2 linked regions of the Homo sapiens genome follow. The protein of the gene in region 1 purifies or fractionates together with the protein of each later gene. This does not show direct contact. Each region holds a gene or a part of one and is shown on either strand. Other genes may lie near its edges.

Region 1 (8,032 bases):
TTCCAAGCGATGGTAATCAGAAGAACTAGTTTTACCACTCTCTAAAGGACCCAAATGACCCCTCCAGGTTCTCTACTTCTCCATCCTATCCTTTGGTGATCAAACTTGCTTTTCCTCAAATATTAGTATTCAAGATAAATAAATACCCCTCTTGTTTTTCAGTTCTATCAAGTTACTAGTACTGCAAACTAGTGAAACTCACATCTATTTTTTAAAAGTCTTTTTTAAATATTTGTGATGGTTTAATGAAGATGACACTGTGATACTAACTTGTTTGTGTGTATTTGTGAGTGTATGTGAATGTACAGGATGGCAGCTGCCTGAAGGGTTAAAAGATTTTATAGGCTGCCACGGAAGAGTATAAGAATGAAGACAACATCCTTGACATTATTTTCCTTTGTAAAAATATACTTTGTATTCTAAAAGATGGAAAAATAATAATACAAAAAGGAAGGGGCTTATCTTTACAGGGATTTGATATTTGTGAATTCAGGTTATGAGCTATTATGAGACAGCCTGTACTCAAATAAGAGATCTGACCACTGCTCAAAACAGAATGAACTTCTGCTTCTGGAAAGATGAAGTAGAAGTACTTTTCCCTACTTCTCCCTTGAAATACCCTGGACATTATATATAAAATAAACATTTAAAAATTCTGACCAGCCTGGCCAACATGGCGAAACCCCGTCTCTACTAAAAATACAAAAATTAGCCGGGCGTGGTGGCACACACCTGTAATCCCAGCTACTCAGGAGGCTGAGGCACGAGAATCGCTTGAATCCGGGAGGGAGAGGTTACAGTGAGCTGAGATTGTGTCACTGCACTCCAACCTAGGTGACAGAGTGAGACCCTGTCTCAAAAATAAAAATAAAAATTCTGAAAGGTGGAGAAGGAAGAAGACTGGCTAGGGACCTTGGGGTCTGAGGAATGACACAGCTGTGAGTCTGCTGAGTTTGTTTTTTCTTATTTGTTTGTTTGTTTGTCTCACATATCACAGACTGAGTGGTGGAGAAGCTAGCAAGAAATGCCAATGGGTACAGACCAAAAAAAAAAAAAAAGCCAAAAAAACTTTGTTCTCTCCAGTCAAAAAAACTAGAAAAGGTAATGCATAGCAAAACAAAAAACTTGCAGGTAAAAAACTGCTCTACTCCAGCCAAACATCACAAAAAAACTGTAGCTACCACACACCTGCCAACGAAGGCCAAGTGAAGAGCCTAGACTTCCACCACTGCCCTACAGTAATGAAGTGCCCCATTCTCCACCTCCCATCCTGCCGGGGTAGCATCAGAGAAGGCCAAGTAGGGGGCTAGAGGGCAGTAATGAGCCATTCTCTCCCACTGTGTCACTGGGTAGACAGAATTCCTATCTCTCCCAGGCAATGATGAGCAGCCCCTTTCCCCCAGGGTGTTAACAGAGGCCACGTAGGGAACCTGGACTTCTACTTCCATTGGGCAGTAATAAGACAGTCCCTTGCTTCCCCTGCTGGAGTGGTGTTCAGAAGGGCCAGCTAAAACAGAAGATTTTAGTAAGATTCAGATCTCAAAACATCCAAAATGTAAGTTTCAATAGAAAATCACTGGCTATACTAAGAACCAGAAAAACCTCAGCTTCAATGAGAAGAGACATTAATTGATGGCAACATCAAGATGACAGAGATATTAGAATTATCTAACAAAGAGTTTAAAACAGCCACCATAAAAATGCTTCAATGGTCAATTATAAACTGTTTCCCAGGCTAGAATACAGCAGTGCAATCATGGCTCACTGCAGCCTCGATCTCCAGGGCTCAAGCAATCCTTCCACCTTAGCATTCTGAATAGCTGGGAATACAGGCACACACCACTACTTTTTTTTTCTGTAGACACAGGGTCTCGCTATGTTGCTCAGGCTCATCTTGAACTCTCAGGCTCATGTGATCCTCCCACCTCGGCCTCTCAAAGTGGCGGGATTATAGGGGTGAGCCACCACACCCAGCCACTTTTAAAAAATGAAAAATAAAAACTCTCAGTAAAGAAACAGAAGATATAAAAACTAAATGGAGATTCTAGAATTAAAAATAAACCGAGGAGGCCAGGCACGATGGCTCATGCCTGTAATCCTGGCACTTTGGTAGGCCAAGGCAGGTGGGTCACTTGAGGTCAGGAGTTCGAGACAGCCTGGCCAACACAGTAAAACCTCGTCTCTATTAAAAATACAAAAATTAGCCGGGCATGGTGGCACACACCTGTAGTCTCAGATACTTGGGAGGCTGAGGCAGGAGAATCGCTTGAATCCGGGAGGCTGAGATGGCAGTGAGCCAAGATCACACCACTGCACTCCATCCTGGGCTACAGAGCGAGACTCCGTCAAAAACAAAAAAACAAAAAACAAAACTGAGGCCAGGTGCAGTGGCTTACATCTATAATCCTAATGCTTTGGGAGGCCAAGGCAAGAGGATCACCTGAGACCAGGAGTTTGAGACCAGCCTGGGCAACATAATGAGACCCCCATCTGTATGAAAATAAATAAAGTAATTAATTAACTAAAGTAAAAAATGCAATGGATGGACTCAATAGAAATATGGGGGGGAGGAGAAGAATGAATGAGTAAACATTAAGACAGAACATAGAAATTACTCAATCTGAACAATATGAGAGGAACTAGATTGAAAAATATTTCACAGAGACTTGGAGACCTGTGAGACTCTAAAAAATGACCAACTATTCATGTTACTTGAGTCCTGGAGGACAAAAGAAAGAAGACAGGGCTGAAAAAGTATTCAAAGAAATAATTTCTGAATATTTCCCAAACTGTGCAAAAGACATAAGCCCAGAGATTCAAAGAAACTGAACAAATCCCAGAAAGGATAAACCCAGAAACCCATGCCAGCACACAGACAGAAGCCCAACTTATGAAAACTAAAGACAAAGAAAAAATCTTGAAAGCAGCAAGAGAAAAATAATAACCTTACCTATAAGGGGAAAACAATTCAAATGACAGCAAATTTCTCATAGAAAACATGGAGGCCAAAAGGAAGTAGCACATTTTTCAAATACTAAAAGAAAAGAACTGCCAACCCAGAATCCTGTATTCAGCAAAAATATCCTTCAAGCAGCCAGGTGCAGTGGCATGTGTCTGTAGTCCCAGCTATACTGCTTGAGCCCCAGGAGTTCAAGTCCAGCCTAGGCAACATAGCAAGACCCTGTCTCAAAAAAAAAAAAAAAAAAAGGAATAAAAGAAAAATTAAAGCATACTTAGATGAAGGAACATTAAAGGAATTTGTCAAGAAGTTCTCTAAACAGAAAGGAAATGATAAAAGAAGAAATCCTGGAATATCAGGAAGAAAGAAAGAACAACAGAAAGGGTAAAAACTTTTAAAAATATGACAGATTATTCTCTCATGAGTTTTCTAAATTATGTTCGGTGAATGAAGCAATAATTATGTCTCATGTGGTTCTCAACATACGTAAAGGAACTATTTAAGACAATTATAAATGGGAGGGTTCAAAGACATAAAAGGAGGTAAAGTTTCTACATTTCATTTGAAATAGTAAAACACATCAGGAGACCACAACAAGTCATACACATACTCACACACAAACACATATACACCCCACTAAAAACTATACAAAGAGATATACTAAAAAACACTATAGATTATAAAATGAAATTATTATTTTTTGAGACAGGGTCTCACTCTGTCACCCAGTCTGGAACGCAGTGACACAATCATGGCTCACTGCTGCCTCAACCTCAAGTCATCCTTCTGCCTCAGCCTCAAGACTCAAGTGATCCTTCTGCCTCAGCCTCCCAAGTAGCTGGGACTACAGACATGTACCGTTATACCCAGCTAATTTTTTAAAAGATATATTTTGTACAGACAGGATCTTGCTATGTTGCCACAGCTGGTCTTGAATTCCTGGTCTCAAGCAATCCTCCCATCTCAGCTTCCCAAAGTACTGGGATTACAGGCATGAGCCACTAGGCCTGGCCTAAAATGTAATTATTTTAAAATGTTCAAATTACCCACAAGAAGTCAAGGAAAAGAAAACAGAGAAATAACAACAATGGCAACAACAAACAGAACAAACACAAAACAAAAAAGGGCAGACTTATTCCCTAATATATATCAATGATTACATTAAATGTAAATGGTCTAAATATGACAATTGCCAAAACAGAGACTGACAGTAGATAAAAGACATGACCCAATTATATACTATCTACATGAAATTCACTTCCAGTATAACAATATAGGTAGGTTGAAAGTAAATGGATGGAAAAAATATAGCATGCAAACATTAATCAAAAGAAGCAAGAGTTATATTATCATCAGATAGACTTCAGAGTGAAGAAAATGTCCAGGAACAAAGAAGGATATTACATAATGATAAAAGAATAAGTCCACTAAGAAGGCATAATAATCCTGAATGTGTTTGCACCAAACTTCAAAGATGTAAATAAGTGAAGCAAAAACTCATAAAGTGAAAGGAGGAACAGACAAATCCATAGTTATAGCTGGAGACTTCAATCAACTGCACCTCAAAAATTGATAAGACAAGTAAACAGAAATCAGCAAAGATTTACAAAAAGAACTAGAAAACACTATCAACTAAAGGATATAATCATGATTTATAATATTGCATCCAACAACAGAAGAATTCCTTTGAAGACCCCACAGAATAGGCTGGACACAATGGCTCATACCTGTAATCTCAGCCCTCTGGGAGGCCGAGGTGGGAGGATTGCTGAGGACAGGAGTTTAAGTCAAGAAACCACAGAATGTCTACCAAGATAGACCATATCCTGGACTATAAGACAAAACTCAATAAATTTAAAATAATTTATACAAAGTGTGTTATATGACCACAGTGTAATCAAATTATAAATTAATAACAGAAAGGTAAAGAAAACCTCCAAACACTTGAAAATTAAACACACACTTTAAAACAATCCGTAAGTTAAAAAGGAAATATAAAGGAAATTAAAAAAATACATTGAACTAGATGAAAATGAAAATATATCAAAATTTGTGTCACACAGCTAAAACAGTACCGAGAGGGAAATCCATAGCACTAAATGCTTACATTCCAAAAGAAGAAAAGTCTCAAAACAGTAATTTAAGCTCACAAGTCAAGAAATTAGAAGAAGAGCAAAATAAACTTAAATCACAAACATGGAAGGAAATAATAGGATAGAAATCAATGAAATGGAAAATTTTAAAAACAGAGAAAAATCAATGAAACAAAAAGTTGGTCCTTTGGACAGAGTGATACTTCATCTAAAAAAAATTACATTTCTATATACGAACAATGAACATATAGAAACCAAAATTTAAATACCATTTATAATCACTCTAAAAAATAATATCAATAAAGCTATAATTTTTTAAATAAAATACTTAGATATAAATCTAACAAAACATATACAGAACTTGTATGCTGAAAACTACAAAATATTCCTGAAATCAAAGTGCTAAATAAATGGGGAGATATATCATGTTTTATGGATTGGAAGAGTCAACAAAGCAAAGATGTCAATTCTCCCCCAAACTGATATACAGGTTTAATACAACTACTGAAAAAAAAAAATAAGCAAGCGAGTTTGTGGCTATAGATAAGATTATTCTAAAATGCGTATGAAAAGGCAAAGAAACTAAAATAGCTAAAGCAATTCTGAAAAAAGAATAAAATAGGAAAAACCATGCTATCCTACTTCAAGACTTATTATATAGCTATAGTAATCAAGATTGTGTGGTATTGTTGGAGGAATAGACATAGATCAATGAAACAGAATACAGAACCCAAAAATATACTTACATAAGTATATCTAACTGATTTTTTACAAAGTGCAAAAGTAATTTAAGGGAGGAAGGGTAGTCTTTTCTATAAATAGTGCCGGGAGTAAAAAGAAAGAATCTTGACCTAAACCTCACATCTTACATAAAAATTAACTAAAAATTTATCATAGATATAAATATGAAAAATAAAACTATAAAACTGGAAGAAAACATAGGAGGAAATCTTCAGGACCTATGACTTGGTGAGGAGCTCTTAGATATGACACCAAAAGCATAATCCATAAGATAATTCGGAAAACTGGACTGCAACAAAATTGAACACTTTTCAATTTTGCTTCTCTAGGAAAGCCCATGTGAAGAGGATGAAAAGACAAGCTAGAAATTGGGAGAAAATATCTGTAAACCACATATCTGATAAGCAACTCAAATCTAGAATGTATAAAGAACTCTTGAAATTCAACAGTGAAAAAACACAAACAATCCAATTTTAAAATGGGAAAAACACACATACAGACATTTCACAAAGAGGATATATGGATGGCAAATCAGAGCATGAAAAGATATTGAGCTATTATGAAAATGCAACTTGAGACCCCAATGAGATAATACTACCTACCCATCAGAACAGCTAAAATGATAAATAGTGACAGTATCAAACACTGGCAAGCATGGAGACAAACTGGATCTCTCATGCATTACTGGACTGTAAAATGGTATACTCTAGAAAAGTCTGGGCCAGGCGCAGTGGCTCATGCCTGTAATCCCAGCACTTTGGCAGGCTGAGGTGAGTGGATCACCTGAGGTTAAGGGTTCGAGACCAGCCTGGCCAACACGGTGAAACCCCATCTCTACTAAAAATGCAAAAATTAGCTAGGCATGGTGGTGGGCACCTATAATCCCAGCTACTTGGGAGGCTGAGGCAGGAGAATCACTTGAACCTGGGAGGCGGAGGTTGCAGTGCGCCAAGACTGCACCATTGCACTCCAGCCTGGACAACAGAATGAAATTTCATCTCAAAAAAAAAAACAAAAACAAAACACAGTTTGGCAGTTTCTTTTAAAACTAAACATGCAATTATTGTACAATCTACCAATCACACTCCTGACATTTATCCCAGAGAAATAAAAATTTGTGTCTACACGAAAACCTCTGTACAATTGCTCATTGCAGCTTTATTTATAACAACCAAACCTGAAAACAACCAAAATGTCCTACAAATAGTGAATGGTTAAACAAACCGCAGTATATTCATTCCATGGAATACTACTCAGCAAAGAAGAAGAATAAACTATGGTCCTGGTACACAGAACAACTTGAATGGATCTCAAGTGCATTATGCTTGGTTATAAAAAGCCCGTATCAAAAGGTTATATACAATATGCATCCTTTTACGTAACATTCTTGAAATGACAAAATTATAGAAATGGAGGGCTGATAAACAGTTGTCAGAGGTTAGGGATGGTAGAGAGGAAGGGAATGGGTGTGACTATGAATGAACAGCCAAAGGCATCTGGTGATGGAATAATTCTGTATCTTGATTGCGGTGATGATTACAGGAATCTACACACGATAAAGTGACAGTACTACACACACACACACACACACACACACACACACTTTATACCAACATCAATTTCCTGGAGTTGCTGTTTACTAGAATTATATAATATGTAATCAATGGGGAAAACTAGGTGAAGGGTACATGAGACTTCTCTGTACTATATTTGCAAATTCCTGCAACTATAATTATCTTAAAATAAAAGCTGGAAAAAAGTATTAACTTAAGATCCTCATGTACTGGTTACTTAAATTATGCTAATACTTTTTTGTTTAAATATAATTTTTAAATATCCCCACCAATATCTTATCTGCTAATTAACTGTAATTTTGATGTTTTATGCATGAACACTGAAGGGCACACTTTATAGTGAATAGCTCCTTTACTACATCACATTTCTAAACTGGAAGGTACTATAATCTCAGGACTCTTTGAAATAAAGCTGCTCAAAGACAACTAGTATTCAACTTAAAACAGGAAAGCGGCTGGGTGCAGTGGCTCATGCCTGTAATCCCAGCACTTTGGGAGGCAGAGGCAGGTGGATCACCTGAGGTCGGGAGTTCGAGAACAGCCTGACCAACATGGAGAAACCCCGTCTCTACTAAAAATACAAAATTAGCTAGGTATGGTGGTACATGCCTGTAATCCCAGCTATTCAGAAGGCTGAGGCAGGAGAGTCACTTGAACCCAGGAGG
Region 2 (8,032 bases), on another chromosome or scaffold:
AACCCTTCATCTGTTTCTCTTCTCCCCAAGTCTTGGGGCGGCAAGAGCAACAGGACTGGTGGTTGGGGAGGATCCGCAGGGTATGAGCATTACCTCTTCCAGACAGCGGGCCTCCTCCTGTTGGTTCTCTTTCACAAACTCTTCCAGAGGGTATTTCAGCCGTGGGAACGGTGCGATGGGCCAGTCAAAGGAAGGGATGTCGATCTTGTGAATGGCTTTAGAGTGCGTGGTCGCTAAGCAACCTGAGTTCAGCAAAACAGAAAAGCAGACGCTTGGCTTGGGGAAGCAGGCAGTACCGTCTTTGTAAAGGAGATGATAGACATTTCAGCGCAAGGCTGTCAGTGGGCAGGGAGGCCTGTTGCCTGTGAAACCCCAGTTCTTTTTATCGTTTAATTTTTAATTTTTCTGGGTGCATAGGAGGTGTATATACTTGGGGAGTACATGAGATGTTTTGATACTGAACCCCAGTTCTCATCCGGAAGCTGAAGGGGGACTCTCGAACCCTTAATTGGCATGCGTGCGTGGGTATGTGTTTGCATTGCGATTAATCACAGATGCAGCGCAGGCTTTGAAGACAGAGTCAAGAGTTCCAGTCCCGGCTCTGTCACTGAATAGCCTTGGAAATTCTTCCTCTTCCTGAACACTGATTCCCCCATCTGCAAAGCAGGAATAATAATCCCCACTCTGCAGTGGGATTGTGTGCAATCAGTGGGACAATATGTGTAAACTGCTAATGTCAGCCGCCGCTATTGTTGCCGTTATTATTACTATTCTAAACGCCACCTTGGGAGCGCAATGGTCCCTCCTTACCCATGGTCCTCCCATGGAACGCGCCCATGAAGGAGAGGATGCTGTAGTCGGGGCAGCCAGGGGCCTAAAACCAAGAAATATCAGTCATTAGTCATAGTTGTAAGGATGGGGGAACTGTATTGTTGCCCCTGCAAGTCCAGAGGGACACAGAAATCTATCAGAAGAACCAGGAATCCTTCTCAGGCAAAAGTTACCCATGGGACCAATGGGGTCTATATCCAAGACACACGTTTTATTTGCATACATACTTACATTTTTTTTTTTTTAAGTCACAAATTTTAGGCTGGGTGTGGTGGCTCACACCTGTAATCCCAGCACTTTGGAAGGCTGAGGCAGGCGGATCATCGGAGGTCAGGAGTTTGGGATCAGCCTGGCCAACATGGTGAAACCCCGTCTCTACTAAAAATACAAAAATTAGACAGGCATGGTGGTGGGGGCCTGTAATCCTAGCTACTTGGGAGGCTGAGACAGGAGAATCGCTTGAACCCGGGAGACAGAGGTTGCAGTGAGCCGAGTTCGCGCCACTGCACCCCAGCCTGGTCAACAAGAGCGAGACTCTGTCTCAAAACAAGTTGCAAAATTTAAAACTAAGAAATTTCACATAGAGACCTGAACTTCTGGCTTCTCACCAGTGCTGCACTGTTTGGACCCATTTTCCTCCTGTGGCAGCTGTAAGTGGCCAAGCAGTACCCACTGCCCGCCTACCTCCAGCTGCTGGGGACTCCTGGGTTTTCAGCCCCTTTTCTACAGGCTCTTCAACTTCCTCCCCATCCCCTGGCTCCCTACTACTCAGGCCTCCTCAGGTGTCAGGCGGGTCAGGTGCTGATGGGTGCACGCCTGCATCCCAGGGTGACCAAGGCAAGGGGCCGAGCTGGGCACCTTGCAGGAAAACCCCCAGGCCTTTGGAAGGGGTCTGTGGTGCTAGAAAGCGGGTGAGGGGAGCCCCTCTCCGGGCACTCTCCCATGGCAGCTGCGCCTTGGGTTCAGGAGGGGTGCATGGACGCCCTGTCCCTTTCCAGCCCCAAGCAAATGGCACAGCTGCAACTCCTTGCATTGTTTTCTGACTCTTCACCCAGCAAGGGAATCCAAACATGTTTCCAGCTGATTCAGGCAGAACTGCTGGAGGTGCCTCAGAGGGAACTGTGGGGGCCCCCAAGTCTCAAGGAGGTTGGCATTGTCTCAGGCTGGTTGAGCACCAATTCCCTGAGACCTCTGGGAAAAACCCTAAGAACTCCTCCCACAGATTCCAGAAACCCTCTTGTACTTTTTTTGTTTTGTTTTGTTTTTGAGATGGAGTCTTGCTCTGTCGCCAGGCTGGAGTGCAGTGGTGAGATCTCGGCCTACTGCAACCTCCGCGCCCGTCGGGTTCAAGCGATTCTCCTGCCTCAGCCTCCCGAGTAGCTGGAATTACAGGTACCCGCCACCACATCTGGCTAATTTTTGTATTTTTAGTAGAGACAGGGTTTCGCCATATTGGCCAGGCTGGTCTGGAACTCCTGACCTCGGGAGATCCACCCGCCTCGGCCTCCCAAAGTGCTGGGATTACAGGCGTGAACCACAGCAGCCGGCCTTTTGTTTTTGTTTTTGTTTTTTTGTTTGTTTTGAGAGGAGTCTCACTCTGTCACCCAGGCTGGAGTGTAGTGGTGTGATCTCGGCTCACTGCAACCTCCACCTCCTGGGTTCAAATGATTCTCCTGCCTCAGCCTCCCAAGTAGCTGGGATTACATGCATGTGCCACTATGCCCGGGTAATTTTTGTCTTTTTAGTAGAGATGGGGTTTCACCATATTAGCCAGGCTGGTCTTGAACTCCTGACCTTGGGTGATCCGCCTGCCTTGGCCTCCCAAAGTGCTGGGATTACAGGCATGAGCCACCGCGCCTGGCCTGGCCCTTCCTAATTGAGGACAGTGCCAGCCAGCCAGCAACAGCCCGGGAGAGGCTGTGCAGCTTCCCCAGATGTACGTGGTGCAAGCCCAGCTGCACTCACCTGGTTAATCATGCACGTCTCCAGCTCCTCCTGGGAGAAGCCCCTCTGCCCTCTTTCCTTGCTCTGAAACAATAGAACAGAACAAAATCTCAGAGATGCTCTGGGGTAGTCGGGGCTTCATCTTTCCAACCAAACCGATATTCAGTCCAGACAAGTAGAAAGTGCTTTCTCAGGAGTGGATCTCATGTATTAATTGTTGCAGGTCTGTACTGAAACGTGAGGCTACCAACTGTGCTCGCAACAAAAGAAACTAACACACATAATGCATTAAGCACCATCAGCAACGATTAAGATCTGTTGGATTAAGATCTGCTGAGAGCGTTGCATGTTTTGCCAGGAAGAATGGAGGCCAGATGTGCGGGCTCAAATCTGTAATCCTAGTACTTTGGGTGGCTAAGACAGGAGGATTGCTTGAGGCCAAGAGTTTGAGACCATGCTGGGCAACAAAGTGGGACTCTGTCTCTGCAATTTAGAATATTTAAATAAATTTAAATTTAAATATTTAAATAAAATAACCTAGAGGCACAACCCAGAGACCTTGGCTTGCCTGGAAGGGTTTTTTTTGTTTTTGTTTTCGTTTCTGTTTTTGTTTTTTTACAGGGTCTTGCTCCTTGCTCTTGCTGTGTCTCTCAGGTTGGAGTGCAGTAGCATGATATCAGCTAACTGCAGCCTCGACCTCCCAGGCTCAAGTGATCCTCCCACCTCAGCCTTCCAAGTAGCTGGGACAACAGGCAGGCACCACCGCACCCAGCTAATTTTTTGTATATTTTATAGAGACGGGGTTTCACCATGTTGCCCAGGCTGGTCTTGAACTCTTGGACTCAAGTGATCTGCCTGCCTCAGCCTCCCGAAGTGCTGGGATTACAAGTGTGAGCCACTGTGCCCAACCTTGGAGGGGAATTTAAGGAGCATTTTCTTCTTCTTTTTTTTTTTTTGAGACAGGGTCTTACTCTGTCACCCAGGCTGAAATGCAGTGGCACAACCATGGCTCACTGCAGCCTTGACCTCCCAGGCTCAAGCAATCCTTCCACCTCAGCCTCCAGAATAGTTGGGACTACAGGCATGCGTCACCATGCCTGGCCAATTTTTGAATTTTTTTTTAGTAGAGATGGGGTTTCGTCATGTTGCCCAGGCTGGTCTCGAGCTCCTGGGCTCAAGTGATCTGCCCGCCTTTGCCTCTCAGAGTGTTGGGATTACAGGTGTGAACGACTGCGCCCAGCCCCCATTGCATAGTTTTGATGCCAAAGCCTCAGCCCTCTGCACCATACCCCACTGTGCCGTCTCAAAGTACCATCCAGCAGTGGCCCTCCCTGTATTTTAACCCTGGTACTGATGTCTAATACTCCAGCCCATTGGAATGAACAGTCAGACAAGGGGTGAGCGTGTGGCTGGGTGCTGGGGAGCCTGTGTGTGTGTGTGTGTGTGTGCCCCAAACCTCACCCGGTACCACATGAAGATGGTCTTTAAGGCGTTTTCATTGGAGCAGGAGCCGCAGGCCATGGTGATGAGCTGGGACATCCCTTTGGGAGCCACCTGTGGGGAGGGAAATAGCCGTGAGCCCAGGCTCATCATGACTCCTGTCCTCCCGCTTCCCCTGGCTGGAGCTGAATCTTCGCAGGGGCCGTACCGGGGACAGACAGAACCAGGGCTGTCCTGGAAGGTGTCGGACTGGGAGGGTGGGCTCAGGCTTTTCCAGGGGTGGCGGAGAAGCCCAGGGAGGCCCTGAGGCTGGCAGAGAGGAAAGAAGGGGGGCAAAAGCCCACTCCTGATGCACCTGCCACTGTCTAAGACACCTACACGTTCCAGGCGGGACGTTGAGGCTCCCAATGGCTTTAATCGTTTGTAGTAACTAAAACCGAGAAGTGGGGGCAGGATTGAATGACATATGCAAGGCTCCTATCATGCGACACATATTCATTTCCCCAGCTCCTTTTGTCCTGCACACAAAGAATCCCTTCTGTCCTTTAAAAGAAAAATTTAAAATACTCTGCATGGAAGAATAAGCTCAGAGAGAAAGATTTCTGTAGCAACACCTTATTCTTCATTGTTGGCGTCTCCACTTTTCCCTTCCCCTGCCAGTACCACGTCTGAAGACAATGGGATTGCTTCTCCAGAACTCACCGAGAGCAAGGACTGCCGGAGCTTCTCCACAAAGTTCTCCGGAGGCAGGATTCCGAGGGCGGGTCTGTTGACAAACATGCTCTGCAAAAGGGCAAGAGACAAATGGTGACTTCTGGGGGCCTGACCCAGCTCCCTGCCCACAAATGGTGCTTTTCATAGCCCCTGTGTTCAAATAGCCTCCAAATGGGGTTGCAGGATGATGACGTTCTGTCAGCGTGGGGCATGGCCGGTTTCCTTAAACCTTTAGAGAAATCCACTAGGATTGCTGTGGATGTTTTAAAAAAGGGTCAGTGTCCTGGTTGCCATATTGCATTGGCGTTATATAGGATGCTACTGCCGCTGGGGAAAACTGAGCGAAGCGTACATGGGGCTCTTTGTACTGGTTTTTGCAACTTCCCGTGAGTCTCTTTCTTTATATATTTAACCATCAGAATGGCTAAAAAACAGGCAGAGTGCAGTGCCTCACGCCTGTAATCCCTGCATTTTGGGAGGCCGAGGCGGATGGATTGCTTGAGGCCAGGAGTTCGAGACCAGCCTGGCCAACATGGTGAAACCTTTTCTCTGCTAAAAATACAAAAAGGGACTTTTGGAGTAGAGAAAGAGTGTCTTGGGCAAAATCAGTGTAATGCACTCAGTGCAAATCCAAAAACCAGCATCACTGTATAGGACACCCTAAGGGCAGAGGGGTTCCCAGAGATGATTCTCCCAGTAGCTTTAGGACTTGACTTGTGCTGCTAGAAACTGGCAGATTCCTACCTCTTGCTTTTTCTGCTTCACGATCACTCAGTTGGGTCTAGGATAAGTAGTGAGGGAAGTTAATTGTCCTCATTGTAGAGTTGGGGGAACTGAGGACCAGAGAGGTCAAGCAACTTGCCCCAAGTCACACAGCCAAGAAGGGGCAGAACCACAACTCGGATCTAGGTTTACTGACTTTAGATGCCACTCTCTGTCAGATACTCCAGGTAGCCTCTGCCCGAAAATGCTCATGCTTGGCACAACCCAGAGACCTTGGCTTGCCTGGAAGGGCTTTTTTTTTTTTTTTTTTGTTACAGGGTCTTGCTCTCTCAGGTTGGAGTGCAGTAGCGTGATATCAGCTTACTGCAGCCTCAACCTCCGAGACTCAAGTGATCCTCCCACCTCAGCCTTCCAAGTAGCTGGGACTACAGGCACATGCCACCGCACCCAGCTAATTTTTTGTATTTTTTTATAGAGACAGGGTTTCGCCATGTTGCCCAGGCTGGTCTTGAACTCTTGGACTCAAGTGATCTGCCTGCCTCAGCCTCCCAAAGTGCTGGGATTACAAGTGTGAGCCACTGTGCCCAACCTTGGAGGGGACTTTAAGGAACATTTCCTTCTGGCTCTGACCTGTTAGTGGGGCTCCTAAGAAATCACATCATGAGAATAGGGTGGAAGCAAGCTGGCCCTCACTAGCAGCAGGGAAATGGCTCCCAGAAGGGTAGGGCTGGCTGGCAGCTTGACAGCCGTCTGGGTCTAGGAACGACGTGGGGGTGATGTTCTTGCTCGAGAAAGCGTGACATTAAGAACAGAAGATATCTGGGACATTGGGTATCAGGATCAAATGAGGATAGCTTTCTAAACCCTTGCAGTCAGCTCAACAGGCTTAGGGTACAGCATGAAGATAATTGGCTTTGGCTTAAGTGGCTGTGCAACCTTGGGCAACTCACTTAACCTCTCTGAGCTTTGGGTTTCTCATCTGCCAAACTGGAGACTCTTCACTAGGTGCTTGTAAGAAGCCAGTGAGATGATATGGCATACAGAGGATGCAGGAGTTCAGTCTCAAAGGAAGAGTTATGCAGAGGGAAAGACCCAGAGGTCATAGGATGGCAGGTGTCTTACTTGGTCAGGCCTGCTGTGCTATGTGCATTCATTGCAATGTGACTGTGCACATGCAATGTCCATGATTATTGTATAACTTGTTGGCAATGTAATGAGATGGGCCTGGTGACATAAGAAATAGTAACTGGAGGTCGGGCACAGTGGCTCACGCCTATAATCCCAGTCACTTAGGAGGCTGAGGTGGGAGGATCTTTTGAGTCCAGGAGTTCGAGGCTGCAATGAACTATGATCCAGCCACTCCACTCTAGCCTGGGTGACAGAGAGAGAAAGAAGAAAGAAGAAGAAGGAGAAGAAGGAGAAGGAGAAGGAGAAGGAAGAAGAAGGAAGAAAGAAGAAGAAAAAAGAAATCATAATTGGAATCCAGATATTAGATCTAAGGGACATGGTTTCATTTTTAGGAAGTCACATGAAGTAATTATGGTGGAGTTTCAGGGTGGTTTGGTTTGGGTGCAAAAAGGTTGATAAACCCCTTCTTGGGACTTTGGTGACCTGGCAGGAACCTGCCCTGTACAAGCAGAATACCATTGCCACCACCTGAGTGCATCTCCAGCCAAAAATGCGGAAGACCCAAGATGTCAGCCAGTGGTGCCCCGGCCTACTGCCCTGGGCATGTCCTGCTGGAAACCTTTTAGCCCGTGGAGGTCAGCTGCCACCTCTCTAAGACTGCGTCAGGGTGCTCTTTTCATCAGGCCTCAAACCCAGTTCCTCTGCAGAACAACCCAACCCAGACTGGGACGGAGAACGTGGATTCACCATCAAATCCCAGCACCAAAAAGAGTGCTTGGCACATTGGAAGCATTCAGTCAATAACCAATGAATGAGCAAATGTCAAGTAATAAGGCTAAAGAAGAAAGTGGGAGGCAGCCCTCCAAGGGCTTAGCATTTGAGGTGGAGGAGACTGGGACACAGCCGGAAGGCAGTAAGTACCAGGGAAGGGTTCCACACGCGGCACAGTTTGGTGGACGGTTTGGAGGGGGTGAGAAGGGAGGTGGGAGGGATCGATGGGGAGAGGTTGCTGGCAGAAAGCCAAGTGGGAGATGTGAGGGTTAGGACCAGTCCCTGACGAGGTGAGAGGGCAGAGAGAGGTGAAAGGTGATGGGGGGATAGGGAAGGTGGGGGAAGCTCCTGGCAGGGACAGGGTAGTACTGTCCCTGAAATCAGAATCCCTGGGCCTTTGTTTTCTGGGATATGTTTTTGTTTTGTTTTGTTTTGTTTCAGAGGCAAGGTCTCGCTCTGTCACCCAGGCTGGAGTGCAGTG

Evidence for each region. The genes of interacting proteins can lie anywhere in the genome.
Region 2: the proteins of SEC22C (region 1) and ABAT purify together in Homo sapiens (affinity purification with mass spectrometry; 3 studies listed by BioGRID and IntAct, with this or other methods). This does not show direct contact.

Annotation. Positions count from the first base shown.
Region 1 is NC_000003.12:42,571,176-42,579,207, forward strand, and holds part of SEC22C (vesicle-trafficking protein SEC22c), read right to left. Parts: intron 1-8,032. UniProt on the Homo sapiens protein: May be involved in vesicle transport between the ER and the Golgi complex.
Region 2 is NC_000016.10:8,761,035-8,769,066, reverse strand, and holds part of ABAT (4-aminobutyrate aminotransferase, mitochondrial isoform 1 precursor), read right to left. Parts: intron 4,999-8,032; coding exon 4,918-4,998; intron 4,330-4,917; coding exon 4,237-4,329; intron 2,860-4,236; coding exon 2,797-2,859; intron 875-2,796; coding exon 811-874; intron 243-810; coding exon 94-242; intron 1-93. UniProt on the Homo sapiens protein: Catalyzes the conversion of gamma-aminobutyrate and L-beta-aminoisobutyrate to succinate semialdehyde and methylmalonate semialdehyde, respectively. Can also convert delta-aminovalerate and beta-alanine.